Linked DNA regions of Homo sapiens: all the other regions are linked to region 5. Evidence: fine-mapped expression QTL. A gene starts in region 5. Each other region holds a variant in brackets. All regions are shown on one strand. Distances are between the middles of the regions.

Evidence for each region. PIP is the estimated chance that this variant, and not a neighbour inherited with it, causes the effect.
Region 1: its variant is fine-mapped to the expression of PIGC in whole blood (TOPMed, PIP above 0.99).
Region 2: its variant is fine-mapped to the expression of PIGC in whole blood (INTERVAL, PIP above 0.99).
Region 3: its variant is fine-mapped to the expression of PIGC in whole blood (TOPMed, PIP above 0.99).
Region 4: its variant is fine-mapped to the expression of PIGC in whole blood (INTERVAL, PIP above 0.99).
Region 6: its variant is fine-mapped to the expression of PIGC in skeletal muscle (FUSION, PIP 0.95). The same link has a PIP of 0.9 or more in subcutaneous fat.
Region 7: its variant is fine-mapped to the expression of PIGC in whole blood (INTERVAL, PIP 0.99).

What each region holds. Positions count from the first base shown.
Region 1 is chr1:172,392,783-172,397,058 of GRCh38, reverse strand. The region is part of intron 20 of DNM3 (dynamin 3); the gene reads right to left. It overlaps LOC102724528 (a long non-coding RNA gene), which reads left to right. Exons shown (of 3, transcript XR_001738294.3): 3 at 2,649-3,308. Among named protein-coding and RNA genes, the nearest start is that of C1orf105, 26 kb to the left of the region's middle. The variant T/C (reference allele first, on the strand shown) is at 2,711.
Region 2 is chr1:172,398,008-172,402,283 of GRCh38, reverse strand. All of the region lies in intron 20 of DNM3 (dynamin 3), which reads right to left. LOC102724528 (a long non-coding RNA gene) reads left to right here. Exons shown (of 3, transcript XR_001738294.3): 2 at 2,368-2,465. Among named protein-coding and RNA genes, the nearest start is that of C1orf105, 21 kb to the left of the region's middle. The variant AG/G (reference allele first, on the strand shown) is at 2,377.
Region 3 is chr1:172,471,436-172,475,711 of GRCh38, reverse strand. No RefSeq gene overlaps it. Among named protein-coding and RNA genes, the nearest start is that of PIGC, 30 kb to the right of the region's middle. The variant G/A (reference allele first, on the strand shown) is at 2,395.
Region 4 is chr1:172,417,423-172,421,698 of GRCh38, reverse strand. C1orf105 (chromosome 1 open reading frame 105) reads right to left here and starts at 1,014. Exons shown (of 7, transcript NM_139240.4): 1 at 793-1,014. The coding sequence starts at 813. All of the region lies in intron 1 of LOC102724528 (a long non-coding RNA gene), which reads left to right. It also overlaps a transcript of DNM3 not described here. The variant T/C (reference allele first, on the strand shown) is at 1,641.
Region 5 is chr1:172,441,745-172,446,020 of GRCh38, reverse strand. PIGC (phosphatidylinositol glycan anchor biosynthesis class C) reads left to right here and starts at 1,952. Exons shown (of 2, transcript NM_153747.2): 1 at 1,952-2,033; 2 at 3,191-4,276. The coding sequence starts at 3,399. C1orf105 (chromosome 1 open reading frame 105) reads right to left here. Exons shown (of 7, transcript NM_139240.4): 2 at 863-948. RefSeq lists enhancers at 1,564-1,873, 1,597-2,120.
Region 6 is chr1:172,378,854-172,383,129 of GRCh38, reverse strand. It overlaps DNM3 (dynamin 3), which reads right to left. Exons shown (of 21, transcript NM_015569.5): 18 at 3,948-4,112. Among named protein-coding and RNA genes, the nearest start is that of C1orf105, 40 kb to the left of the region's middle. The variant TGC/C (reference allele first, on the strand shown) is at 2,057.
Region 7 is chr1:172,373,682-172,377,957 of GRCh38, reverse strand. All of the region lies in intron 17 of DNM3 (dynamin 3), which reads right to left. Among named protein-coding and RNA genes, the nearest start is that of C1orf105, 45 kb to the left of the region's middle. The variant A/TA (reference allele first, on the strand shown) is at 2,115.

The sequences.
Region 1 (4,276 bases), 49 kb after region 5:
ACTTAAGGGTAGATTTACTTAAGGGAACAATTTCATTCACTCTTAAAATTGGCTTTGAGAATAATGCTAATATAAACTTAAAAAAATACACATGGTACAGAATGTATCTTACATAAATACCCATTCCTGAGTGGAATAATTTCATTGCAGACTCTCTGGACTGCGAAATGCCTTTAAAAGTCTTTCTCATCTCCTATTCTCATAAGAGGTCTCATTCTAGATGAGATATATACTAATCTTTTGAGATAAATGAAATACTGCAAATGAATGTTATATATTTAAATATACAGACGAACAGTAAATTTAGATAATGTTACCTCATGAAAATCTGAAACTAAATACTGGTAATATTTACATGATGGAAGCAAGTGGTATATTTGATTGTAAAATAAGACCATTCCCAAGTCATATTTAAAGCAGCATAATGCCTTCTCATGCTGTCTTATTTTCTCTTAGTTTCAAAATTACCATAGAAGCTGAGGGATTCTCCTGTGGTGGTGTATTTAGTTGTGGCTATCCAGACTTTTAGCTTATTCTCTCTCTTAGTTAGTCCATTAGCCCTTCTACCAAAGAAGCAGGGAAGGAATGGGGCTTATTTCTAAATTTCATATCAACTTGCACATTTAAGAAGAGTGCTTATACCTTTTCCTGTTTTCTAATGTTTAAATTAATTCCCAATAGGAGAAAAAGTTGATTTTATGAACATTTGGAATTTTACATGTCTCTAAGCAACTGAAGTTAGGAAGACCCTACCTTGCTATGGATTATGAGTGACTGCGAATTTTGCTACTTGCCATTTTGACTTAACATATTTTCAGGTCCTTGGGTAGAATTTATTCTTTCTATGATTCACATGAGCTGATAACTTCGACCAGAAAACAGGAGTGGGCATTTCCTAGTGCTTATGGGAATAGTTAAAAAATAATTCAAGAAATTAGAGTGTTTGCTATTTGTGGTTTTGCCTATTGCGTGGCTGTGATGCCTGAAAAGCAGTCACAGGGCAAAAAGTGCCATGAGGAGACGGCGCAAATACCTAGCGGCTTTAGACTTCTTGCCTTGTGTAGGAATTCTTTCTTGGTCAGAGTTGCCATGGGATCTAAACTTGATGTAAATACTTAATGTGGCATCAATGCACATGTAAATTCTATCATCAAATCTAGTGCCTTTCAACACTGCCCTCCCATCCCCCACATTTAAAATACTGGCCACACCAACAGTGTAACAGTCTTTTGGCGACAGCATTTGGTAAGCCAGATGGATTTAATTTGGCAACTTAAGGGTGTAAATATATGTTTAGATTCAGGGGTTCCCCCCGACAACACTTACAATACATTGGCAATGGTAAGCTAAAGGATTTCAATGTCGAGTGTTTTAAAATTCTCCCTTTGAGCAGCAATGAAGTTATGACAGGCAAGCAAAAGCCATCAAACTCTCAGCTAAATCCTCAATGTTTTTCTTACATTGCTGGAGGTAGGCATTTAAGGCATGTTTCTGAGTGAAAGATGAAGCATTTACATTTTCATTTTTAATTTCCTGGCTCTTATTGGCTAAAGCAACTCTAGTAAACGTTATTTAAATTTTGCTTCTAGGCCTGGTGTGGTGGCTCATGGCTGTAATCCCAGCACTCTGGGAGGCTGTGGTGGGTGGATCACCTGAGGTCAGGAGTTTGAGACCAACCTGGGCAACATGGTGAAACCCTATCTCTACTCAAAATACAAAAATTAGCTGGATGTGGTGGTGCACGCCTGTAATCCCAGCTACTCAGGAGGCTGAGGCAGGAGAATCGCTTGAAGCCAGGAGGCAGGGGTTGCAGTGAGCCGAGACCACGCCACTGCACTCCAGCCTGGGTGATAGAGACTCCGCCTCAAAAAAAAAAAAAAAAAAATTGCTTCTGATCTTTCACAGAAAGAAGGAAGAAGTTCCCCAGCAGTCCTTTCTTCTAATTTGTTGCTTGGATAAAATTTAGAGGTGAAAGAGCTATGAGCAATGTCATGCCATGAATCGTTGACGTCGTTAAAACAAGAAATAACAAGAACTGTCTGAATGTGAAGGTTTCCCTGTAAAAATCATTCTTTTCTTACAAGTGAGGGAAACAACGAAGTGCAGTGATGAAATAGAAGTACTAGCTTGTGTGTCATCTACAAATCTGTATCTGCTTACACTGGGCAAAACTTTTTTTTTTAAACCCCCCTTTCTTTGAGCTAACATTAACTTGTATATAGGAATATTCAGCAGATTCCAACTGGTGACAATTTGCTACTGACTGGTTGCAGGAAGAATAATAATCCTCTACTGTGCATTTTTCACTGGCCAGTGGCTTCTCTGCCAGACTCCTGTCTTGGCTGTTTTCCTCTATCAGTCAGGTGAAACTCAGGGCAGGGCTTGGTCCCCTGAAACTCAGGAAGGCTTTCCCTGCAATGGCTGAAGCTTCAACAATTTAGAGCCCCAAAGAGAACAATGACAGAGCTATTTGCTATTATTTGTCATGGGATGTGGAAGCAGTTGTGTTTGGTTAGCTTAATGCCAGTTACCACTGGGCTAACAGCAGCATATTGTTATATTTACTGCTGCTGTCTGCATTTATGTTACTTGTACTTTGCCTTATGTAGATCCTTTCTTATTTTCCTTTTCCTTTTACCCTCTTACAGCATAGGATGTTTGGAAGAGTGAGATAGGGGACACATTGAAAACAGAGAGGCAATCTGAAGGC[T/C]ACCTTGACGCATCTGCAAAGCTCCCAGATTCTGACTTTCACAAGACTTGCTTTCTGTTTCTGGGCCTCGCCTAAACAGACTGCCAGTCATCCGAACCGTGGCAGGATGGAGATGTTTGTGTAAGGTAGACTCAAGTTTGCAAGACTCAAGAAGGAAACCACCAAACTAATTTTACTTTCACTTAAACCAGATTGAAACCAAGACTTGAAGAATTAAAAACTTTGACATTAACCATTGATTCACTCCAATGAAATAATTGTGTTATAGCCAGAATCATGGTGAAATTGGAACAAGGCTTTTGATGGGATTTTTAATTGAGGGACTTATATTAAATTGGATATTTTCTTTAATGAACAGCATGTGGCCAAAATTCTATTTTCATTAAAGTATATTAAGCATCATGACAACTCATATTAAACCTGCAACAAATGATTAATGACATTTAGAGACTTCAAATGTCATGAGACACCTTAAATATTAAGAATCAAAAAGAACACCTCAAAGTTGTTTCTATTCTTAGTAATTATGCTTAAAAAAACATCTTTCCTTGCTTTGAAAGCCAGTTGCTAAAAATAAAAACTGTTCCATGAAAAATCACAATGCCCAATGATAAATTTATGTATTTGTTTTTTAAAGGGGGAGGATGGTGAGAAAAATAGAAAGCTCCTGGCTGACATCAGAGGTCACAAGATGAGTTCCTCATTTGTCCAAATGACATTCAGCTGCTAAAAGAAGTCAGACTTTTAGAGGGCTGTTGAAAAGACAGTAAGTCAGGAGGTTTTCAGTACATGACTGCAGGGGAATCAGACACAGGCTAGTCACTTAAGTTGCTTAATTGTCCGTGTACCCTTAGCCCACGACTTCAGGGCTCAGCAGCTTCATCCTTCATGGCACCAAACCTTGACGTAAGGGATTCAAAGACACACTCATAAGAATCGTGAATTTGTCCTCATGCAAAATTTGGGGGACTGGCTACAAAACCGAAACAAGGAGATCGTATCCCTAAGTGAAAGGGACTTTATATTAATTGTCAGTTATAACAATATGTAAAATACATAAAAGAGATAGAGCACTGCAGGCCATCAAGGTCAAACATTTGAAACAGAATTAAACTAAATTATAAGGAGGATTAAATGGCTTTTGTCTTTGTAAAGAAAAGAATATGCATGCATTGATTGCCTATGTAGAAGGATTAATAAATCTTTTGGCATGGTCGATTTGTAATAAATTACTGAAAATGTGGGATTACAATGAAACTCTTAAAGTGTGCCACATAAGTCAAGGAAGCCACCTAAGTCATGGGATGGGCATGAGTGAGACACTCTGGAATAATCTTGATGCTACTCTGGGACTGCCCTTGCAGGGTGGGACATCAGCTTCACTAAGGGGCTCACCAGAGACTCCTTCAAGGGAGCATTTCTTGGTTTCCATATTGTGTTTATGTCATTTTGATGAGCTGGAGTAAAACCCAAATCCTTTCGAATGATTCAGTTTTGTCTTTTTAAAGAGAAACCATCATACTTGGTGAACAAGGGTGGTCAAAAAAAGTACTTGAATATTGAGTG
Region 2 (4,276 bases), 44 kb after region 5:
AAAAATGAAGGGTTTTATCTACAAAAACCATTTTCTATGTTTTCAGGAATTGAAATGCTTTACTTCTCAATGACCCTCTTGAATCATTTAATGCTTGCATCATTTTTTTTGAAGTTTGAGGCGTGCATGCATATCTTATCATCTGAACAACATTCAAAACCTTCTATGAACCAAGATTACTCCTACGCCTCTTGCAGCTTTCCACAGCACCTGCTGAGGGCAGTGTCCCAAGCGGTAGATCAATGAGTGTGAATGGGCCCAAAGATAAATCGGGTTGGAGCACACTTCTAGGTAAAATGGAAGGCAGCTGTGATGCAGGACCCCTACTTCTTCTTGTGAATGTCTGCTCTAAGAGAACAAATTTTGGGACACTGTATTTTAAATTTCAGCGATGTATTTGCACTCTACTTCTTATTTTGGGCATTTATTTAAAGTCAGAAAAATGCTATAACAGTCATGATTTTGTCCACATGGAAGATAATATTTTATAATTTACTGTAAGAAATACTATAGGGTGCTATTCAGCATATTTTTGGAATTTTTGGCTGTAGCAACAGAATGAGCCAATACTATCCAAGAATAGTTTACAGTAGATGCTGGAAAGAACACAGAACTTGGAGCCCACTTAAAGGATTTAAGGAATTCTCTAATATGATTCTTGCAGTGTATTAGAGCCAGCATTTCTTTCCCCTGTGAAAATGAACCCATGATTTTATAATGTATGTCATTGGGAAAATATGAATCAATTCATGGAATTTGAAATCAGAACATAGGGAGAAAAATAGTTCACAATTTTTTGATGATACAAACAGGTAATATCCTGTATAAATTAGCCTGTGACATAAATGGTAATATAATCTGCTTTGTCACACTTTCTTTACATTGTCCTACATATCTGACTTGGATTTCACCCATAGGCATGGTGCCTAATATACCCACTTCTGTGGTTGTGGCAAAAAAGCAGCTTAAAGGATGATTTACCCACATTAACTCTCCTCAGTTTATGATCTGTAAAAAGAATTTTACAACATTCACTCAGGCAAGCTTTTCAATAGAATAGAACAAGAAAGTGTGTTTAAGTTGGTTTTTAAAATAAGTATCGGGCTAGTTTCAAAATAAATTTTGATTGAGGCTTGCAAGTCAATTCATTTTATATTCCTTCATCCCCTCAGTAAGCCCTACTTATGTACTAGGTACTGTGTTAAGAGGTAGAGATACAGAAATAAAGAGTCACTGCCCTGAAGAAGTTTCTTGTTGAGATGGAGAGAGACAAGTTAACTATGACCACAGTAGGATTATGCTAAAATTTTTGCTTCAGGAGTTTCAGAAACATCTGGAGTCCTAGCTTAGAGTTGGAAGGAGGCTAGGAGGTTGGAAGGACTTCCAGAAAGTACGGAAAGTTAAGGGGACTAGCATTCCAGGAATAGGAAAGGTATGTGCAAAGGAAAGAAAGCCAGAAAGTACTGAAGTTTGAGAAATCAAGGGTTGTCTTATTCTTTATCACAAATACCAAATGACTTGTTTTGTCCCAAGTCCTAATAAAGTCATGAAACAGGTAACATGAAGGATTTTTAGTTGTATTAAAATATGATTTCTAAAAAGCATTACTTTCCGAGATTAACTTTTAAGTATTTTGGCCTTTGTACTATATCATTGAGATTATAAACTTGGGGGAGGAAAGAGCTAAAAGAAACGCAGAGAAGCAGAAGGCAAGAGGGATACAGTGTGAGAAAGCATGCAGAGAAAGGAAGTGGTTTTACAGAGATTTACAAGTGATTTTTTTTCCTTTGCTCCTTCCTTTCCTCCTTTTCTCCTGTCCTGCCCCTTCCCTCCTTCCCTCCTTTCCTGCCCCTTCCCTCCTTCCCTCCTTTCTTCCTATCTCCCTTCTATCCCCCCTCCTTTCTCTCTTATTCCTAAAGAGACCTCCAGAAACTTATGTGCTGTAGAAACCTACTCCCACTGATGGTGAATGGGGTAAACCTTTTTCTGACCCTTCTCGTCACTCCCACTTCAGGCACCAGGAGAGGGAGAGGCCAACTGCCACCATTTAGGGGAAGGAGGAGGCAGAAAGGAGGTGCTGAGAACTAGCTACTGGGCGAGGCAAGTGTCCGCTTCTGAGAAGGAGGAGGAAATCAGGAGGAAGAAGGAAAAAGAAGAAAGGATAGGGAGGAAAAAGGCAACACTTCGAATCTCTGTATGACTGCACAATTCATTTCTGCTTTGGGAAGATAGAAAAGACTTTTTGTCCCTTTCTGAGAGGGAGCAAGAACCTTTCAAGCATGGGGATGTGACTTGGGGTAACTATGTAACTAGAAATACTCACAGAAAAATAACCTTTCCTTTTCCTTTTTTTTTTTTTAACAACAGCAAAAAAAA[AG/G]AGCATGAGGAATTTGAAGACTGAGAGATGAGTTGTGTAGCACCAACATTTTCTTTCTGCCTGACCTTCATACCTGATGAATTAAAAGGTCAGTTTTAAGTGCACCACATGATAGGCTTCTGTCACTTCTATTAGCCCAGGTGGTAAATATGAAGAAAAAGAATTACCATTTATTAATCGTCCCAGTTATTTTTTTTTAAATCCAGCAGGAGGAGCTCTAACATGCTTTAGAGCTCAAATTTTAAAAACAAAATTTTTTAAAGCAAACAGAGAAAAACAGAGAGGCATTGTGCTTTGCAGGCTGCCATGTCAGTGAACAAATATGTGACTAAGTCCAATTAAATGCTTCGTGAGAAGCCAAGGAAGCCAAGCAATGACACTCGTGGAGACAGAACGGCCCACATTTCCTCCCTTCCACGAGCCTCCTCTTTCTGATGCAGTTAAGATGGGACTGGTCTGCAGTATTAGCTCTTACAAAAGAGGGAGCAAAAGGATGATTTCTGGGCAAGACTAGATGTAATTCTTTTCCTCTGAACATGTCATATTGTTTCTAAATGAGTCTTTGACACTGGCTCAAGAATTTGAAACGCCTTGAAAAACAGAATTTTCATTGTTGGTTGAAGGCACTATGAAACTCCTAAAGGTTCAGTCGCTTCTACTCAGCGGCTTGTCAGACGCTTTTTTTAAATGAGAGAAATGCTGTGTTTGTAAAAATTGGTGCTAAAAGGGTAAAGAATAATATGTCCCCTGGGCCATGTAAAGAGTCTGCAGAAAGAATTAGGGCTTTCTAACATACACACATAAACTGGAACACAAAGAATTTACTCAGGAACAGTGAGGAGTATATGAATTTAACAGTTATGGGATTTTTAGGGTAAGCCTTTCCATTTTGGACAGTGTTGTAGGGGTGGAATGGATGAGTAGGCATATAAGATGATCAGAATTACTTAACATGAAGGAAATTTTCAACCAATCCGTTTTAATCTCTTGCCAACAAGAAGTCAAACTTTTGTTTTACACCTTAATGGTACACCCACATTTTAAATTTTTATACAAGCTCCTACAGAAACTTTAACTAGACCAATTCAGACCAAAAGTCACTAAATAAAGCTAGTCTAGACGGAAAATCTATGAAAACCATATGTCTTTTAGGCATCTGTCTTACAAAAACTACCATCATCCTGGAGAAATTGTTCACAAAATATGCTTTTAGGAAAACACTGCTGTACTGACCATGGAGGCTGTACGTAAGAAGATGGCTGGACTTGGAAAGAGTAAAGCCAAAATGTTTATAAATGAAAGGCTCTCATTTTCACATACATCTAACTGCCTGTAAACATTACTGAAAGGATGGGCCAAGCAGATATCATTTACCTTACCATTATTCTAGAAGAGATCAAAAAAGTTTACAGTTTTGTTCCTCCTCACTACTACAGAACATTAGACCAGGGGATCTCAAAGCAACTCTGTTCTCACCCACAGAGAACTATTTTGAATAATGTTGTACGTGGATGAGGCCAATAAACCAGAACATTTTCTTCTGATTATTACCTCATCCTGCTGGCCTGCCAAACACAGCTAGCAGGCAAGTGTTTGATATAAGTAACTAGAGGAAGACTGTTCTGTATAATTGGGCGTAGGGATCATCTGAGAAACAAGGGAAATCAGAAGGACTAGAGTGCAATGACAATGCAGTAAAGAGGAATATTCTCAAATCTTGCTTTTCCAATTCAACATTGCTTTCTGAGCTAAAGACAATGGTCAGTGCTACCTTCAGTATTCTAGGTACATAATGTTTCACCTTAAAATGCATTTTAATTTTAATAAGTGGTAAGCAATCCACAGAAAAGAAATATAAATGCAAACTTTGCAATAAAAATAACATTCTAACTGAAAACT
Region 3 (4,276 bases), 30 kb before region 5:
ACTGAGATAGATTCATTACAGAACACAGGAAAGACCCATAGATGTTAAGTAACTTGATCAATGTTATACCATTATAAAGGATCATAATTCTGAGTTTATCCTTGTGATCATGTCAACCCAAAGTGATAAGAGTGCTATTTCATGTTTACTAGGATCTCTAATTGGTAGTTACATACAAATTTGTTATTAAAAAGGAAAATTAACATTATTTAATAAATGACCTTTATTTGATAGCAGCATTTGTAATGAACAACATGAAGAGCCATATTATTTAAAGAGGTCTTTGGCTTCTACAAAACAATTATCTTTGTCTCTTCAATAGATCAACAGATCAATGTAATGAAAAAGGAAGTTGAGGTGGAGTTCTAGATGAAAGGAGGAAAAATGCAATATGTCACCCTTGATGTAACTTGGCTTTGAACAAACCTGCCGTAATTGTCATGTTGAGGACAAATGGGGAATTTGAATATAGACTAAGTGAATATAACAATGAGGAATTATTCATATTTTGTTAGGTGAGATAATGATGTTATGCGTTGAAGGACTGCAAGTTGAACTATATAGTGGTATAATGTCATGATATCTATTTTAAAATGGTTTGGCAAAACAATATATAGGTGAAGGAAATGTGGCAAAAATATTGACAATTGTGGACTCCAGAGGGAGGAGATATAGGTGTTTTTGTGCTGTTATTTCTACTTCTGTGTATATTTGAATGTTTTTACGATAAAATATAAAGAAGAGCCCCCTGGGAATCCTTGATCTAAAGAGACAGTTCTAAATTTATTCTATGGGGTCTGGTTCCTGGCTCTGTTCCTTTCAACACTTGTGTCAAATACCTAGAAGAAGAAGACGAGATTGTCAAATCTGGGAGGACTAGTCAATGATGGAATCTAGATTCAGAAAGATGGTAACTGGCTGGAAGCTAGCAGGAATAAACCCTAATAAGAAATAATATAGGGGCATGCATATAGGTGTAAAAAAATTTAGCAGCCTGAAGAAAGCTGTCAGAACAGTAATTCTCACTAGAAGGACAAAAAGTCTTTAGTTGGTAGCAAGTCAATGTGAAAGAATGAATGTGACTTAGCTGCTAGGAAGACTAAAGCCATAATAGTCTGTTTTTCAGGCAGTAGGAAATCCAGAACAAGAGAGGTTAAGATTCTCATAGCCACATTTGGCCAGGGCATTAGTAGAATTTTAGATTCTACTCTCTAGGTGCTGTAATTTGAGTGGCACTGGGGTGGATCCAGAGAGAATGACTGGGTCCATGTCATACTGCCCAAATAACCTGGGATCTTAAGAAGAAAAAAAAAAGATTTTTTTTGTTTTTTTTTTGTTTGTTTGTTTTTGTTTTTTGGTAAAAGTGCCCCAGGAAAGAATTGCATTTGCTAAATAGATAGAACTGTATGAAACATTGTTGCTTTTTTTAAACGGGGAGAACAATGGTAAATTTAATGCAAACAGAAAGGAAAAACAAGTGAAAGTGCTTTGAAAAGTTTAAAATGCTACATAAATGTTACTATTTGCCAGTAGAAGCCTCTCAGTGGCAAAACTTCCAAGGGCCAGAGACAAAGTTTATTCTTTAAACTGGAAACTTGTCCAAACCTTGTAAGTATTCAAGGACTATGTTGTTTGAGTATCAGGAAGACAAACAGTTATGTTAATAGCTTATCACCTAGATTATCCCTCTGGCAATTTTAAAAAGATTTTTTTGTTTGTTTCAGCTTGTTCTATTTTTGAGTCAGTGAAACATTCACATGGTTCAAAATTAAAAGAGCAAATATGGGTGTACTCTGAAAAATCCTCTTTCTTGGCCAATTTTTGTCCTCCAGCCACACAGTTCCATGCCTTGGAGCCAATTAATGTTACCAAATGTCTTTCTTGTTGTTTTTATGCATATCTTACTCTTCATGCATCTTTCTCAATGTGAGAATCCAGGAAGAAAGGGCTTCCTGACTCTGGCTATGTGACATCCCTACAGGATGATCCCCACTACACAGACTGAGTGGAGGACAATCCCAAGAGGTTTAAGAACAAGTTTTCCTTGAAACAGCAGACATCTGCCGGTACCTGATTCCACTATTCTGCATTTCACTGGCCAGACAGTTAAATGTCTTGCCAAAGACTTTGCAAAGAACAAGCGATAACTTCCCATGTGGGTGAATATGGCTATTTCCCCCTTCTGACCACTTTCTTGAGATGTTGACACAACTGCCTCTTTGTTCCTGTCTAGAGAGCTGGACGGTTGGTGATATGGAGAACTTTTTGCTGCAATCACTGAGTGTTTCTGTTTATAACTCATGCCTAATTTCATACTGACCTGCACATGTGTTCATTTGTGTGCATGTTTGTGTGTATATCTTATTCTACAATTGAAACTATTAGCTCCTCAAA[G/A]GCAGGATCCTAATACCTAAATACTTTATAGCCTTGCTGTCCCAAATTCAGGGATTTTACTTCATTTTTTTTTCCATATTGCTTGGTAAGCTTAGGAATAGATATTTTTTTTTTCATTTGAAATATCTCTCAAGTGTGTTCTGGGTAGCTCCTGCAGGGATATGGTGTCAGCATGAGATATTGTTCTTGTCCTCATTAAGTTATACATTTTTCTAGAGAGACAAGAATTACATGTATTAAACAGGTATAATATTTAATAAAGTGCTAAATTAAGATGTTTTTGAGAGGGAGATGGTTGAAACAGAATTGATCATCCCTGTTTTCTCTAAGGGTTAGTTAAATTTTATCCATTTCTAAATTTTCTAATTTCACCTTGACTCTTCAGAATTTATAGGTTTATTTATAGAAACAAGACCCACGCTTCCTCTTCTTCTTGAAACTCTTTCATACTCTGTTCAGTAATGCCTTTCTCATCCCTAAGACCTCCCTCAGCCTGAGTAACTACACCCAAATGGGACATTCTAAATAGGGCTTTCCTTAGGAGGACACAAGGCAGTTATTAAACTTGTTACACTTAGGCTACTTGAAGTTATGTATTCTTAGACATGTTCAGAACAATGGGCAGCTCCAATGTGTTCTACCACAAGGCCTGGGAGGTGATGGCTCCTGACAGGTCTCCCCTGAGCTTTGACAGTTTGGGGAAGGGAAAATACAAGTGATCCTGAACACAGCACATGGCAGTAGAGGCCTGTAGGATTTCCCAAGGTTAAACTGGGAACTAGATGTGACAACGAGTTAAATATTTGTTTTTAAAAGCTACAGCACGGCTTTTCCTAAATACAGCATTTCTCTCCATTCCTGGCAATAAAAGAATTTTGTAGATTGATTGGTTTTTTAAAATTCCCTGTTAGGGTGAGGAAAGATGAAAGAGTATATCTGACTCATGTCAGTGGACTTTTATTATAATAAGAGTCATTGTTTAAAAAAAAAACAGCAAAAGCAGGCTTTACCTTAAAACAACGACAAAAATCTACCCAAGATTATCCATTTTGCAAAATTAATCTGAAATGTATATTACTTTGAACTAGGAATAACATTACCAGTAGATTTTCATAGTGAAGAAATTACCATGGCCCATTTATGAGAGATCTTTTGGATGACGCTTAAAAACATGCAGCAGGTAAAATAACTGACAAGCTCAAGTTATAACCTCTAACGATCCAACTCAGTGCAGGAAAGGTTGGGCTAAGAGGGATGGCAGAGTCAAAACTTTGACTACCACAGGAAAAATAGAAGCAAAGTTGGTGTGAGTAAGAAGATTTATTTTAAATAATACTACTTGCAGAGAAAAATCACGCAGCATATATGCAAATCTCTTTGCAAGTTTAAATTGAAATGATAGCATTGGGTTAGTCCTGTGGAGGGGTATGTCAGAGTTGGACTTCCCAATTTAGGAAATTCTTCCCTCAGTCCCATTACTCTCAGGATTTTGTTGTAGGAGTAAACTGAAAAGGAAGTTCACCAGCTGGCTAACTATTCAATGAAGCTGCAGATGGAGTATTTCTAGTGTGCTGAGGCCACACTGGGTCCAGGTTTAGACCTCAGATTCTGGAAAATGAGTTCACACTAGCCCAAGCAAATTAACAATCATTCATATAGAGAAATGAGATTTCAAAGGGAACTAGACTTCTTGTGCTAACTGGTCAACCCACTATATTTGAGAAACCAAATGAAGTTTATAAAGTTTTTAAGTAGACAATCTGAGCAAAGGGAGGTAAATGATGCTAAAAAGTATCATCAGACTTTGAAAACCTGCTGTTGACTTTTCTCTGATATCTCTGTCGAGTGACTAGATTAACCAGATTAGTGAGTAAAAACGTCC
Region 4 (4,276 bases), 24 kb after region 5:
GTGATCACTGATTTTTGGTTCTTATGAAGGTGCTTTTTTGTGTAGATAGTTGTTAAATTTGATGTTCGTGCATGGAGAACAATCAGTGAAGGCTTCTGTTTGGCCATCTTGCTCTGCGTCCTCCCCAACTTAGGATTTTTTTACTTTATCATGGGTTCATCAGGGTATTGCATGCATTTTTGACTTACAATATTTTCAACTTGTGGTGGTTTATTGAGATGTAACCCTATCATAAGTCAAGGAGCACCTGTACTATGGTAATAGAGACAGCTAGTATATCCCTTTAAATAGGAAACATACAGTGTCATAAGCTCAATGTGATTTATTCAGATTTAGACCCTAGTAATTATAAAAGTCTATACAAGTTTTTTTTTCTTTCTCAGCAATCTTAACTTCCTGTGACTGAGATTCATTGTTTTAAAGTGCATTCACAGTTGAGAAGGTTTACTTCAGAATCTCAGGGAACTGCACTAAAGAATCTGGTATCAATTTTCTGAGGATTTAAAAAAATCATACTTAAATGCTGAGTTATAAAAGATGTTGGCAAGTACAACATTTTTTCCAAACTATACGATAAAGAGCATTGAAATTTATCATGCCCCAAACCCATTAAAATTATCTTCACCTGTAACTGAACATCAGCTGTTATTTCCTTACCTTCTTTTGGCTTTCAACTTCTAGGATGTCTGTTGAAACACCCCTCAATGTTTATGTGGCCTCCAAGGCATACAAACATTTACCAGGGTAACCCCATAAGGAAAGAATTGGAAGTTTCATTTATTTTTTTCCTACCTTTAGTTCTCTTTTTTCCATCTTTCAGATCTTTAGATGTTCTGAGTTTTTCTAGCTGGAGACTGGGGAAACCTAGCTCCCCTCACTGTGGCCAGTGGAAGACTGCTGTGGAGAACCTGAATCCAAAGTGTTTTTTGTTAGGAGACGAAGTAAACAGGCCAGTTTACAGTTTCAATACCAGTATGCCTTTTTCTCTACCAACATCTGTGTGATTTACATCTTGAATCATATAATTCCATTCAGAATGAAAAGCTCAGTTTCTGATTGGCTGAAATGAGTTCTAGTATTCCTTTCTTTGTTAGAAGTCAAAATCACAATGTTCTGGAACATTAGCATGTGTTGGGTAAAGTTGATAACAGTATACTAAAACTCAGATAGCTGCTTCAGTACTGAAGTCAGAACAGTTCTCCCTGGAAAGACAACCAAACTTTTCTCTTATTGTAGCACTACATTGTAATTGCTTATTTAGCTATTTTGTAAGCTACTTTTATTCTGTTACTTCTCTGGTATTCCCAGGGTCCAGGACATTATCATGAATTCAAGAAATGTTTGATGCATAAATAAAGGAATGAAAATATATAAGGAATATTATGTTTACTAAAGGCATAATAGTTTGGCTCTTCCTGACTATCCTGAGTTATGATCAACTCTGAAAAAGGGAGTAATTTTTCAAGTCTATTAAACATAGCAGGGTGGAGGTGGAGGTAAGAAGAGTTGGGGAAAGGTATATTATGAAACATAGAAATACTATTTACTAAATACATATTAACAAATCTTAGCATAATTTAATTTTACTCCAGGCTGCCCCCCATCCCTTTCCCCTGCCCTCTTTTTTCTTGCCTATAGAA[T/C]GTAAGGAAGGGAACACACTTCTTTGTTAAGGAAAACTGAGTAAGGTTGTCATTTCATTCTGTTATGACTGGAGTTTTTCCTTCTCATCATTCATCAGGTCAATTTAAGTTTTATACATCTAAACTGTGTAACACTGCATATAAAAATAAGTCCATGTTTAAGACAAAGTGGAAAAGTACCAAACACTTTTAAAAAATGAATTGAAGAAAACCTTCTCTTTGACAACTTCGGTTTTCATTTGGGGAGGTGGTATGAAATCATCTAGGTACATTTTTGTCTATTGGGATGAAGAATGCTATCCACTAAGAATATTGATTTAAAAATCAAATGCCTGGACTGGAGGGGAAGGAAAGGACAAAAGACTGCATGCTATGTGCTATTTTACATCAAGTCACCTCCTTCCTGCTATACATGAGCTTCAGTTGATGCCTTGGTTTGGAGCCTTTGAACTTTCTTAGTTATCACTGATTTTAAATGGTAGTCACTGGACCGGGGATACAATTAAAATAATGTAACATGCCATATGAACATTTTAAACCAAGAAACTGATTTTTCATTTTTGAGTGGAGAACTCAGTCCTTAAAAAAATTTGTGGTCCGAAGAAACAGCATTACTAATGAGGACTCTCCCTTTTACAACTGGGGGTTCCTGCCCACATCTTCCAAATACCTCCTTTGCCAGGGCTTGCCTAGGTCAGATGTGAAGTAAATAGAACTGATGAATGATTTTTTTGACTCTCTTGTCATGTAGTTTTCTGTCATCTTAATATGCTGAAGGGGAGCACATTCAGAAGTGATCTCATTTGAGAAGGACTACTTTCAAGTTCTATTTTAGGCCACATAAATTTTCAAAAAATAAAATTCTGAATTAAATCTTAAACCTTTGGGAAGGCTTCAGATCACATATTTGGTGGAATGTACTATATTACCTAAATAATAAACATTTTATTTGGATACATCTTTGGGATGCTTGTTAAAAAATTATAGATTAAAATTTTAGTGTTAGAATTACCATTTGAGGATAGAGGAATAAAAAGTTCTCTATTCCTTCAAACTTATATGGACTCCATTTTTCTAGTGCTTTACTGACATCATGAAGAGTCTTTCTTCTCAAGGTGGCAACATTTCCTTGCCTTGTACTTTTATTCTGAATGATGTGGTTTTTCGCCCTTACATTTGCCATATAGAATTTATGAGGTTTATGTGTTTTTGCTCTACAGTTTCTTCTATGATCTTACATTTTATCTCCCTTAAGAGTGTTTAGAAAAACAATAATAGGAAAAAATATTTTGGTGCAATAATAAGTAAAAATGGGATTCCTGGAGGTGGATTGGAATTATTTAGTCTTCTGTGTTTTTTCTAGACATCCATAAATTTTCTTTTTCTTTTTATTCTTCTATTGGACAGAAATTTCACTTGAAGGTAGATTATTAGTCTCTACCAAAGACCGTCTTAAATCACAATGCTTTAAGAACTTTTGAATTAAGCTTCTTAGAGGAACACATAATATATTCACCTTACCTTGTTTTAGTTGAAACAAATTCTTTTTTAAATTTAGGTCTTCTTTAAAAAAAGAAACAGAACACACTTCATTTTTATATAGAATAAACTTTGTTTTTATTATACACATGGATGAAAAATAAAAGTTTTTATGTACATACGACATATAGTGCAAATGAAAAGCTTTTAAATACCATGGATAGACATGTTGTTGGAAACAAAAGGAGATGAATGATGGGGGTTAGGATGGTCGTCCTGGAACTGCAGGAGGGGGTCGCCTAGTAAAAACAAAACAAAACAAAACAAAATAACAAAAAGAAAGACACAGATGCAGAGGAAGAAAACAATGTTTAAATTATAAAATAAACCCAAATAATAGCATGCAAAAATAGCTCACAAAAGTCAAATTCAAATCACACACAAAAACATGCAGACATGCAAAGGAAATGAAGGGACATCACATAGCTAAGTTAGCAGTTCCCAGGACTTTTCCTGGCTACTAGCAATGTTCTAGGTATGAGCCATTTGAGCTCACTCAAAAAGCTTCTTATTTTGCACCATGGAATGATAAATCCATGCACTCTTATTCAGGAGAACTGGGACTAGTCCCCGAGCCAAATACCTTTATAACTTGTATATTTGATTTTCAACCCTGATTTTGTGAAACTCAGTTATTTCCAAAGATTTCAATGAATGTTGTGAAATCTCCATAGGGGGAGAGGGAGTTGATGTAGCCAATGGCAGGTTAAATTTTTTTTAAGTGAGGTAAATTAGAAGGTGTCAAGAGATCAAATGAGCAATGTAATCACAATGCAGAGAATGCCAGAGGTTGATCTCAGAAAAAAAGGATTTGTAAATAAGAATTTGCTCCAGGTGAGTAGTCCTGGTGTGTAATAGCCTGGATTCAGGCCTAGGGAAACTAGGAGGCAAGGTCTGGTCCATGGCAACCCCAGGATTTTCTAGGATTTCCCTCTGTCTAAGAGCTAGGTATAACTGTATTTCTGATTTGTTCTGAAGTGGGCCCAAGGTAAATGAAATCTGGTCTGCTGGATCTTTCTCCATTTCCCTAGGCTGGCTTGCATTTCATCAGACCTATGGATAATGAAATGAGGGTCCAAGTTGTGCTTCATTTGACA
Region 5 (4,276 bases):
GGAATTTGCTTATGAAGTCACTTATCCATGGGCAGGAGGGTACATGGTAGTTATCAACAGGAGGAGAAACTCTTTTTGGGGAGTCTGGCTTTTCTAACGAGCTGTTTCGAATGCCAAGGAGTCATTCCTTTTTAGTCTGTCGTGTGCCTTTGGAATGGCCTCTATGCCTGCCCTTTCTCTTTCTCTCTGCCCTCTTTCTGGTTTCTCTCATTCACCCCAACACTACCTCACACCTACCCTTCTGTCCATGTCCCCTTCCCAGAGTGGGGTTTATCACTACACTTAGGAACCATTTCATCAAAAATGGAGAAGGGACACGGTAACCCAATTATTTCAAGAGACAGTTGAAATGCTCCCTAGATATGTAATTCCTGCAATTTTGAAAAATAGATTTATGTGTCATATAGTAGTTTGTTTGGAAGGAGTAGGACTAACAGGAATGTAGGAGGGTGCCTCAAAGTTACATACAGAGTTACTATTCTATAAAGATGGGAACTTACTGTTCTAGACTTTTGATGGTAAAAATGTGAAAATTTCAGACTACAGCAGTGGAGAAAATGTGGGGTGAGAAAGAGGATGGAAGTGTTTTGAGAGACAGTGTCTAGGGGAAAAATTATCTTATACTGTTGAGTGGTAGTGGTGGAGAGGGAAAAATTTTGAGATCTCATCTCCTCTAGCCAGGCCTATACTCAGTGATCATTTTTTTCTGAGAAACCCGGATTATTTCTATTTTTAAAGCACTTGACTTGAGTTTCTCAATGGATCAAATGTGCCCTCTGATAATTGTCCCCATCCCTTAAGAAGAAATCATCTTCTGTGAGATGTTTCGTAAAACTTTTGCCCTCGGTGGCTGAGAGGTTACCTTCTGGGAAGGCTGAGCACTAATGGCTTGTTTACAAGGCTGGCCTCACTAAGCCAAGGAATCTTGTCAAATTTTGGAACAGAAGCCTAGAGGGAAATAGAGAACATTTTACAGAATATATCACACTTAAACATTGCTATCATTACGATGGCCAAAGTCAGCTAATAGCAGCCATATAGTGAACACTTTACAAACCATTTTTATATTTAACTCTTTAACCATCCTATAAAGTAGCCAAGTGCAAATAATGTCATCTCCATTTTACTGATGAAGAAATCAAAGCTCAGGTAGTGTGATTTGCCTTGAGTCACTGAGCTAGTAAATGGGTCATGTTTTCTGACTTTTATTTCCACTGTATCCTGTGTTTTACTACATCCCTTTGTTTCTTTATTACTTCCTTCTGTTTATATATCCTTTAATATTTCCATGAACTCAGTTTAATTAGCAATCTTGTCCTCACTTCTTTTAGGAGGTAAAGAGGAAAAAAACCAAGCTTTGAAGCTATAGACAACTGGATATTGATCTCTGTTCATCTACTTCCCAGGTGCCTGTCTTTGGACAAATACAACTTATCTGAGCCTTAGATTTGTCCTCTTTGAGGGGGGAGATGATATAATCAGTGTAAAGGTCAATGCACCAAAAAAGAGAGTTTCATGAGAGCAGCAATTTTTGTGTGTTTCATTCACGGCTGTATCATGAGCACCCCAAGCATGGCTTGTTACATGCAGGCATTCAATCAGTATCTGTGGAATGAACGCATGGATGCACGGGAAGTCCCAGCTGAGGGCCTGACTTAATAAAGGAGCGCAACAAAAGCGGCCATTATCTCTCACCTACTGGCCCAGCCTCTTTCCTTGTCCTCTCTTGCCTTACCCAGTCCTTCAGATGGCACATCCCATCTTTCAATAGGGGATTGCTGGGGATTTGCCTTCCTAGGCTCAGAGCATTCGGGTTTGGGCCAGTCTCCAGGAGAGGAGACCGGAGGTCCTTCGAGCAGCCAGGAGGGGGCAGCAGTCACGTCGCGATGGTTCCAGCCGGGGAAGGGTGCCCTCGCTAAGGAGATTGCGGCGGACCCGGAAGTGCTTGGCCACAGTCGCAGCCCCGGCGCCCCGAAGCGGGAAAAAGGCTGGGTGCCGCCGTCCCCCAGCTGCGCAACCCTAGGAACTCTCGGGTAGGTGGGTTCCGTGTAACGGTCAGTGTTTCCGGGGCTCCTTTTCCTCTGCTGCCTCCCGCAGACCCAAGGCTGAGTGAGGGGCGGCGGCGGAAGTGGGAGGCCCACCCAAAAAGCCAAATGGGGTGCCAGAAGAGTGAAGGCGCACCCTGGGGTCACCCTACCCTACCCCGTCCCCTCCCAGCCCCACTCTGCGGGCGGGCGCTGCCCTTTTGGGCGTCGCAGACCCTCCAACCCCGGCGGCGGCCTTAAGATTCCCGGGCTGGGATCCCTGCTGCAGAGGGGGTAACGGTGTCTGGCTTGCCAAGCAATATTTGTTGTGGTCTATCATGGAAGAAATAAAGTCGGGCAATATGAATTTTTTTTTTCTCAAATTTGCCGGATGGCTGTGGTGTTTCTGACTCTTAGTTTTCTCATTGTGAAAAAGGAATGATTATCTTCTTCGATCCTCTCAAGAGTTTCCTTGTTTTGAGTAGATTGATAGCTCTTTAAAGGATGCTAAGCTCAGCTAATGGAAGAAGAGTCTAGTTTCTTTGAGGCTTTGATTTTGGTTAAACTATAGAGCTCATACCTTTCTGTATGGTGCAGCTTACTATTGTCTTTGGATTGGTAACTTAAAAAATACAAATAACATGCCTTTGAGAACCAATAAAAACTATGGATATTATCCCTATAAATTTACACAAATCCAGATATAAGCATGCAATGTGATATACCTAAGGGATATGTGAACCACTGAGTTAAGAACTGCTTTAGAGGGAGATACAATGTGAGACACAGGCTTTGGGATAAGACTTTGGTTTGAATCCTGGCTCTGCTCTGTTACCTTAGGGCAAAGTTACTTAAGCATCTTGAATCTCAGCTTTTTTACCAAAGCAGGACTAATACTAACTTACAAGGTGGTGAGGATTAAGTGAAAGAAGATACATAAGGCACTTAGCACATAGTAGGTACTCAATAAGCGATAGCTAACAGATGTCTATTATTATTCAAGGAATTATAATTTTCAAATCTGAAATGCAGTTTTAATGTCCCATAAGGTGACTACCACATACATTTTTCTCAGACTTTTAGTAAACTGAGTTGATTTGACTTTATCTCAGTACTACTCTTGACCTTTCACAACTTTCGTAGGTTCACAGTCTCTCTTTTTCTAGGAACTTGGCTGTGTTGTCCTGCCTCAGAGACAAATTCATCTATTGTAGGCCTAGCCCCTGCCTTTGAAAACAAGGAAAGGTTGGTAGAACATCAACACAGCATGGAATTTCCAGGGAGGTCTCATTTCAAAACTTCATAAAGAACAAGAACCACCTGGACTTCTGTGAGGGCGATGATTAAACTGGCCTGAGTTTGAATGAAAGGATAATGTATGCTCAACCTGTGACTAACACCAAGGAGGTCAAGTGGCAGAAGGTCTTGTATGAGCGACAGCCCTTTCCTGATAACTATGTGGACCGGCGATTCCTGGAAGAGCTCCGGAAAAACATCCATGCTCGGAAATACCAATATTGGGCTGTGGTATTTGAGTCCAGTGTGGTGATCCAGCAGCTGTGCAGTGTTTGTGTTTTTGTGGTTATCTGGTGGTATATGGATGAGGGTCTTCTGGCCCCCCATTGGCTTTTAGGGACTGGTCTGGCTTCTTCACTGATTGGGTATGTTTTGTTTGATCTCATTGATGGAGGTGAAGGGCGGAAGAAGAGTGGGCAGACCCGGTGGGCTGACCTGAAGAGTGCCCTAGTCTTCATTACTTTCACTTATGGGTTTTCACCAGTGCTGAAGACCCTTACAGAGTCTGTCAGCACTGACACCATCTATGCCATGTCAGTCTTCATGCTGTTAGGCCATCTCATCTTTTTTGACTATGGTGCCAATGCTGCCATTGTATCCAGCACACTATCCTTGAACATGGCCATCTTTGCTTCTGTATGCTTGGCATCACGTCTTCCCCGGTCCCTGCATGCCTTCATCATGGTGACATTTGCCATTCAGATTTTTGCCCTGTGGCCCATGTTGCAGAAGAAACTAAAGGCATGTACTCCCCGGAGCTATGTGGGGGTCACACTGCTTTTTGCATTTTCAGCCGTGGGAGGCCTACTGTCCATTAGTGCTGTGGGAGCCGTACTCTTTGCCCTTCTGCTGATGTCTATCTCATGTCTGTGTCCATTCTACCTCATTCGCTTGCAGCTTTTTAAAGAAAACATTCATGGGCCTTGGGATGAAGCTGAAATCAAGGAAGACTTGTC
Region 6 (4,276 bases), 63 kb after region 5:
CTTTTTCTTGAGCAGTGTGCTGAATTCCTGGCTGGTGGAAACAAATCAGTGCTTTAAATGCCAGGATAAAGCTCTGGTATTTAAGATGTACTTTCCCCTAAAATAATGAACATTTAAAATAACACTTTACTTCATACGCATTAAAGTTACAGTAAGTTTTGAAACTAGGGCACATGTTACTAATTTTCCACCAAAATGCCAATGGCCAAGGAGAGTAAATGTGGACCTCCAGAGGGGTCCAGGGGCGCAGGCTACAGCACACACTCCAGTGTGAAATGGCTCTATGTTTCAAATTTGGTTTTTTTAAAAATTCCTAAGAACGTTTACATTCTCTTTTGTATTATCTGGGTTTGCTTAAATATGAGAAAGATTTCAAACATTGCTTCTCACCTTCAAACAAATCCTAATTAAATCTTCAAGTAAAATTAACTGTCTGGGAAAATAACTCATGAATACCCTGTGGGGGTAGGAGTCCTCTAGTTGGAGAGGGCTGACTTAGAGTTTCCTAACCCTGTCACGTGCATTATCCAATGTTCAAATGGTGAGAACATCAGACTATGAGTGAGAAGACTTGGATTTCAGTCTTAACTCTGCCACCCCCAGCTGTGTGATCTTGGGCAAGTCAATGTCTCAGAACCTCAATTTCTTCATTTATAAGCTGTGGAAAATAATGGGTATCCAACATGTGGTTGGCTGACAGGTTCAAACAGAATTATGTGCCACTTTGCCACACCGAACACATTTTTAGAATAAAGCTGGATCCACTTCATTCTTTGATGGAGAACTTCTGGTGGGGTGAGCTACAGAGAAGAGGCCATCCAAATGGGCTTACCATGGGGTGTTATGTGTGTGTTAGCTTTAAAGTCCTGAGCAAAACTCTGCTGCTTTGACTGTAGCCTGTCCAGAAAGACCGTCTGTCATAAACTTGCTATTTCTTTGTGCTGCTGTTACCTGGTATGTTTAAGTAATGAAACAGCTGCTGCATTTCAATAGACAAAGGCTTACAGTATGTCTGAGGCAAGGCATTTATTGCTAGGCTTTAAACTTCTTAAACAATTCCATATGGAGATTTGAGTGGCAGAACACTTAATGTAAACTTTCAAAGGAAACTGCCCACCAAATTCTGAACTTTATGAATGTTGGCTGAAACATATTCTTTTTCAGAAGGCCGAAACATATTCTTTTTCATTCCCATTTCAAAGAGGAAAGGCCAGAACACCGCTTTTGATAGACCAGGAAGAAATAGAGGACCGTGTTTTAGGCATTTATTGATTCTGGAGGAACAATTAGCTTTTTGATCCAAACTCATTTAAAGATGCAGCAGGGTTAAGTGAATAGAATTTAGAATTAGGAGTCAAAAGACTAGTTTTCTCGTTGTGATTTTATTATTAGTTCTTTCATTTGAAGATCTCTTCACTTTGAATCAAGTTAAAAAATCAATACATCTAGATGGCACAGTGCTGGGTGTTCACTGTTTCAGTTTCCTTGGACTCAACAGGTCACGTGTGGAATGAACAAAATAGGCTTGGGCATTCTGTACAATAAGATGCCACGACAATATGACTACATTAATAAAAGAGATATATATTTTTCATATATAGAATTATACATATATAATTTTAAAATATATGTATTATATATAAAACTATACCTTTTTATATATGTTTAAAAAGCACATAAAATAATACCCAAGAAAAGCAGTCATTCTAGATATGTAAAACTAACTTCTGGTAGATACAAAAAGTTAAATTTCAAACAAAGCCACAATTTCATAAGAATTCAGCACTACATGATACTTTCGCCTTCTCCACATTCCTATTAGTTTTTACTTCAAGATTTGACCTTGGTGATCAGATCTTAATTGAAGTCTCCTTTCTCACGACTCTTATGTGAGGTCTCTCTCAAGACAACTATCAGAACTTTACCTCCGAGGATAATATCCTGTAGGTGGAGGTTTAGCCATTTCATTAAAACAAGAAAACACACCAGTGAAGAGTGAGGGAAACTACCCCTGCATTTCTTTCTTTCTTTCTTTCAGTGTGTGTGTGTGTGTGTG[TGC/C]GCATATGTGTGTGCATGTGTGTATGTTTTTCTTGAGAAGGTGAAAGTAGGATAGATTTGCAATAGGGGTTTTTTGTTTTTTTTTTTTTTCCTTTTAGCTAATTTGTGTCAAGCTACTCCTCACAGCTATAGGCAGGAAGTGCTATTTCCTGTGCTGATGATTTAATATAGTGCAGAGCAAAGCAGCGTTTGAACTGATGGCAGCACTAATGACTCTCGGTGAAACAGTGAAAAGATAAATGATCCTTAATCAGGAAAATGTTTAAATAAGCAAGTGCCTGGATATACCACAGCAAAACAACCTGAATTCATTTAAGTAAATGAAGAAGGTAATTTTAAAAATACACAGACTATTTGTTTAGTACTTTATATTTTTCTAAATGGCTTATAGCCACTTTTATTATAATCTCTGATGGCTCTGTGAGGTACCTCACTGTAGTTTTAGAAGAAACTGACTTCAACTCAAAGGGGCGAAATGATTTGCTTTAGGTTACACAGAAAGCCATTGGTCAAAAGAATACAATTCATAGTTCCCACATTTCTAATTTATTGCTTACCTGTTGCTGATTCTTCAAAGCATCCAGCTAACCTTGTTTGAATACATACGTGTATGAAAATAGTGTTAGTTAAAAATAAGATTGTTCACATGAGTGCTTGGGGTTGCTTACAGTCAAGGAATGCAGAGATCATGGACAATGAACGGACTGTCGTATTTAGAAATAAAATTTTGAAATTAACCATGAAATATGAACAAGGGCTATTTACAGTTCTTAAATAGGCAGCCATATTAATTTCTTACAATTATATTTTTCACAGTACTTTCATTTGTACCATCTTCTGGAACAAATCCCTAAGTCAGATACACTTACTACAATTAGTATTTTACATATGGAGGAAACAGACACATGAAAGAGACTCACCTTAGGTCAACAGAGTCTGTAGCAGAACCAGATTTAGAACCCAGATTTCTCCTAAATTCTACTTTGGGGCTCTTTTTAGTACTTTGCCATCTAATTTTAATTTCTTACAAGTAATGCTCATAATTTATCATTGGATTAAATAAAAAGATGTCCTTAGAAGATAACTAGGAATAAAATTATTGGTGTCTCACTTGTCAAGATTCAGAAAAGCCCCCTATAAAACACCTCATTATAACCTATCTTATCTAAAAGACTATTTCTCAAATAACTTGTGGTATTATTTGTACTGTAAAAAGTTAACTACCAAAAGAACTAAATCAAACATAATTTAAGTATCATACTCTGACTACTATAAATAACCTTGAAAAGGTTATTTAGACCCATTGATGGCTAGTCAAGCAGGATTTTCAGATTTGAGGTTATAGCATCCTTACCTTAGAAAAATAAAATTCACTGAGTTTTTAATCCGAGGGAATAAAGCAAGAAGCCCTTTCCCAGGTTAAAATAGCATTCCATAGATTTTAGAAGCTGAAAATAATCATATTAACATATTTTATATATGTGTGTGCACATGCATGCACACGCATGGGCATAGGAACAAATATATCCTTTGCCTTTAGTCTCAAAGTCTAGGAGCCAGGGCATCTGGTTTCTTTGCTGGTTTTGCAATTAATTTACATGATGCCCAGGATTATGGTGTTTTTGTTTTGCTTTATTGTGAGCAAACTCACACTCTTCTAGAAGACAGCCAATGGGGAATACCTCAGTCCTATAGCTAGAAGTTTTAAGTTTTCTTCCCTAAGTTCTCTTTCACTGGTCAGTCACATATCACGTCTAATGGAAAATGATGAACCTGGGTAATATTATTTGAACTATCCAGAAAATACACAAAGAAGCTGAAGATAATATGTGCAACTTCCACACTCGGATGGGTTAGAAGTTAAATGGAGGTAGTTTATAATCACTTACGTTATTGATCATAAGGTGCATTATTGTTTTTGGAATTAGATCTCGGATACATTTGTTGATAATGGACATGTAGGAGTCTACGAGGTTGCGAATGGTCTCCACTTGCCTCTCCAATTGTGGGTCCATGGAAAAGTTTTCTGCTTGTCCATTCTCATCATTTTCAGCCTAAAAGAAGAGAAAACAAACCATGGATTATCTCATATTCACTCAGAAGAAAATAAAATGTCAGTCGTTATCAGATTATCAACTTCTGATTAGCATAGTTGGAGTTTATATCAGTAGATGGTAACATTTTTATCTTATGCATCCACTGGTTCTGAAAGGAGATG
Region 7 (4,276 bases), 68 kb after region 5:
TAGCTTTACTGGATATTAAATGATAAGCCTTTCCTTTGAATCAATATGCTTGTGTGAAAAGCATATTGATGGGCCACAAAATCAACAATATTGATAGAATTGGTTCTAATCATTTATATAGGCTTCTGTCACTCAGAAATGTCTATTGTTCTAAAAAACACATTAAAATAATGCATGCTCAACTCATTTCCCAGTCCTGAGAGCATGACCTCATGATTTGGGACTACAGTATGAGGACATTTCTGAGGCTCCAGTGCATTTAGGGCCTCCAGGAAAGCCTACTTGTAAGAGAAAGCACAGACCAGAGAAATTCCAAGTTGAGGAGTTAGGAGCTACTACAACTTGATGATAATGAGGATGATAAAGTGATTATGAAATATATATATATATATATATATATATATGATATATATCAATGAGAGCAGATGATGACCTACAGCTTTCTGAAGAAAACATCTTCTATATAAAGAAATATAAGCCTCCATTAGGAATACAACACAATTCCATTTGTCTCTCTGATCTAAAACATTCTTGGATTTTAGATTTTGCCGTTGTGTTTAGCAGTACCAGGTAATGGCATTTCAGCATAAACCTACTACCACTTCCCAGGAACATTTATTGAGCAAATATTGTATTCCAGGTACTGTGCTATGTACTTTATATAGATCTGTAGCACAACCTTAGGACAGGGGTATCATCGTAATTGTCAACCCATATAAGAATATATTCAAGCTCTGAGAACTGAAATTTGTTCAATAAATGTTAGATAAATATTATTTTAAGTCAATTTTTTCCTTAGGTATTAAGAAACCAGAACATAAAGAGAGTTTCTAGAAAAATTCCTTAAAGTACTGATAGTTATAAAAAATAAATAATTGAGCTAAAGGAGAAAAGCAGAATAAATAACTTGTTACATTCACCTCGAGGAATATGAAACACCAGGAAAATTATATTAGCATCCACATTTTCATATAGAAACACTAAATTTCCCCATTTTACAGCTTTCTTAACATGTAACCATGCTTCACTTTTTTGCATATCAAAATAAGCAAAAGACACTGACTTTCACTTTTTGAAACCAGATGCAATTAGAAAACAAAGTGTCAGAGTGAATAGAGAACTCTGGTTTAATTCTTAGCATTAAAAAAAATTGAGAGGCTTTAGTAAATAATCAGTAAAACAATTTGAAATTCTTCTTAGCTTTTGGAAATACTTGCAGACATGTAGTGACATGCAAATCTTAACTATTCTGATAATACAGTGGACATGATGGGGAGTCACAGAGTTCAGTATGCAAATTTGATTTATTTCCTCATTTTAGAAAAAAAGAAGCAGTAAACTGCCCCTTCTACCAATGTCTAAGATGAACGGGAAAAATGCATATAAATGGAATTTTTCTTTTACGTGAGTAATTGCAGAGAGCAACACTTCCTTTTCTCTAACCCCAGTTCTAACCAAATTCTCCATTGTGCTCTTTTCTGTATGTATATTGTGTATGACTATATTTTTTCTTTGTTTAAATTATAGGATTGCAATAAGGTTCTTTGCAGTTGAAGCACTGAAATGACAGCTGTTTATCATTATCCTCATCAAGGAAATGTAAAATAAAAATAGTAATTTGTCTCTGATCTTTGAGGCAAAAAAGAATGGTCTGCAAACATTTAACCTTTTATGTGCAGGTTCAATGATGCTGTTTAAAAAACGTGAATAATATTGTAGAAACCAGCTTGTTTCTAAAAAATACAATAGACAGTCCTTCCTATTGCAGTTTTTAAAAATAGCTATTGAGAAATCTAATTTAACCAATAAAAACACCAGCATTGTAAATGTGAAGTCATTTATAAAAATTACCATAACTTACTTTCTCCGAAATTATTTGCATGGTATTTAAGAAACAGGCTGTTATATAAAGTTTTAAGTTATTTAAAACATATTTTTATAACTACTATTATTATTTTTGTTTTTAGAGACAGAGTCTTGCCCTGTCATCCAGGCTGAAGTGCAGTGGCGTGATCATAGCTCACTGCAGTCTCGAACCCCTGAACTCAAGGGATCCTCCCATATAGCTGTAACTACATGCCACGCCCAGCTAATTTTGCCTTTTTTTTTTTTTT[A/TA]GAGATGGGGTTTTGTTATGTTTCCCAGGCTTATCTCAAATTCCTGGCTTTAAGCGATGGTCCCGCCTCAGCCTCCCAAGTAGCTGAAAATTTTAATTTAAAAGCTTTCTTTTAAAGGTTTACTACTTTAACAGGTGAGGGAATGAAAGTGTTGAATCAGAAATAATTCTCACCATACCTTGGGGCGTCTATTATAGAAGCACTGGGCTTGACTGGAATGTCTTTCAGGTGTTTTGTTTTTGTCTTTTCCCTTTCCTTAAATCTCTTATTTAATCATGTCATAGACTTATTTGAAGACTTTTTCTTAGTAAATCAGGTCATCACGATGAAAACACTGTTACCATGGTAACGTACCTGTGAATTTTTCCAGCCCTACATTATCAAGAATGGTTTCACTGAAAACCTCTCTCCACTGCCAATCATTCACTTCTAATTTGATGAGGCTGGAAGGGTATGGGTTAAGATAGTGTTGATGATGCTCACCCCACCACCAACAGTGGTCTACAAATACTGTGAGACAAAACATGTGTTTCCAAAAGCTACCAGGATGACCAAATATAGTCCTATGAGAAATGCCTTACAGACATAAAACAATTGTGCTATTGATCATGATGAAGGCTGTTTTTGACTCAGAGCGATTCCTCTGCTACTGTTAATTCTGTAACACCATCATCATCATGTTTACATACTCAAATAATGAAATACTATAATCACAAGAAAAACCCCCGTGGTTTCATTTATAAGAAGATAACACTTAAAGATTAGGGGGAAAATGACACAAGAGTAATCTATATTTTAGGAATTCTACTTCCATCACCTAAAAACTTGTAACTGTAAAGAAATTTTAAATTATTGTATCCTTTATACTATTTGTTTAACAGGCACTTTTAAAGCTCATTCAGTTTAGAATCAGGGTATTAAGGGATTATAAGGTCTACGCAATAAAGAACTAGGTCTGTTTACAAAGATTGAAAGATGGACAAAGGTATGAAACAAAAATCACAGATATTGTAAAGCAAAATCTGTCAATTGTTTTGTTCTTCAAAATCATTTACATGGATGAGTATAGATGCACTATATCAAAGTTAATAAAGTCCTAGAGAAAGCAGGGGCAATAAAATTCAAATAATATGAAAGCAGCATGGGCCGTCATAATAAACTACATAGCAAAATAATAGCATAGGTATGCAGTTGATCTTATTTACCTTTTCTTTACATTATGAGGAAGAAAATCTTTCAAAGTTCAATGTAAATACAATTACACTTGCTTTACATGTAAAAACTTCTTAGTAAAAACAAAATAATACAAAGCATTAAAGCAACCAAAAAAACCACACACAACTGTAAAATTCTGTGAGTAGAATCATTTCTTTCTGGAGTACAGAAGAAAAACGAAGCCGTTAAAAAAGCAGCTATAATCAGGGGTTTTAAGCTTCCCTGATGTTCACTGAATACTGTAGTTGATAAAGCTGTCACCTACATCCAACTACAGAACTCCCGAAAGGCCTGAAGATAACTTTTTCAACTATTCCTACACATGAATTACTGAGTGCACCTTCTCAGACATTCCCAGGGCCCAAGAGCCTTAGTAGATGATCAAGATTAAAAAAAGACCTGAAGGCTGTTTTAGGAAATTTAAGTTAATTTTTGTTGAAAGGAAAGATGAAAACAAAATCAGAAGAAATTTGCTAGGTTGAGCTGTTGCAAATTTCTTGTTTCCAATATTCAAAGATAGAACATTATGTGATAATAGCACCAGACCACAGCTGAGTCATCATACAGACAACACGTACATGTCCCAAAGTTGGGGAGCTACTTCCAAAGTTGCCAAAACCAGAACTTCTTCTGTCACTGTAAATGCTCATACCCAACTAAAAAATAAATTAAAATTTAAAGGAGCTTATCTCAATTTAGGCAAACCTTTAGTTTACAGAAAAATAACTTTGTGAAGATGATAAAAATATACTGAGAGTTCTATAACTACTAATATTCTGAAGAAGATTGCTTAGACAAAGATCTATATTCTTGGAGTAATAATCATTGGGTCTGGAGTTTTTTTTCTTTTGTTACTTCTCTCTCTCATTCTTCTGAAATTGAATGTGTGTATGTTGCCTGTTTGACAATCTGGAGGATGTAAAGTACAAAAAAACAAAACTATCTTT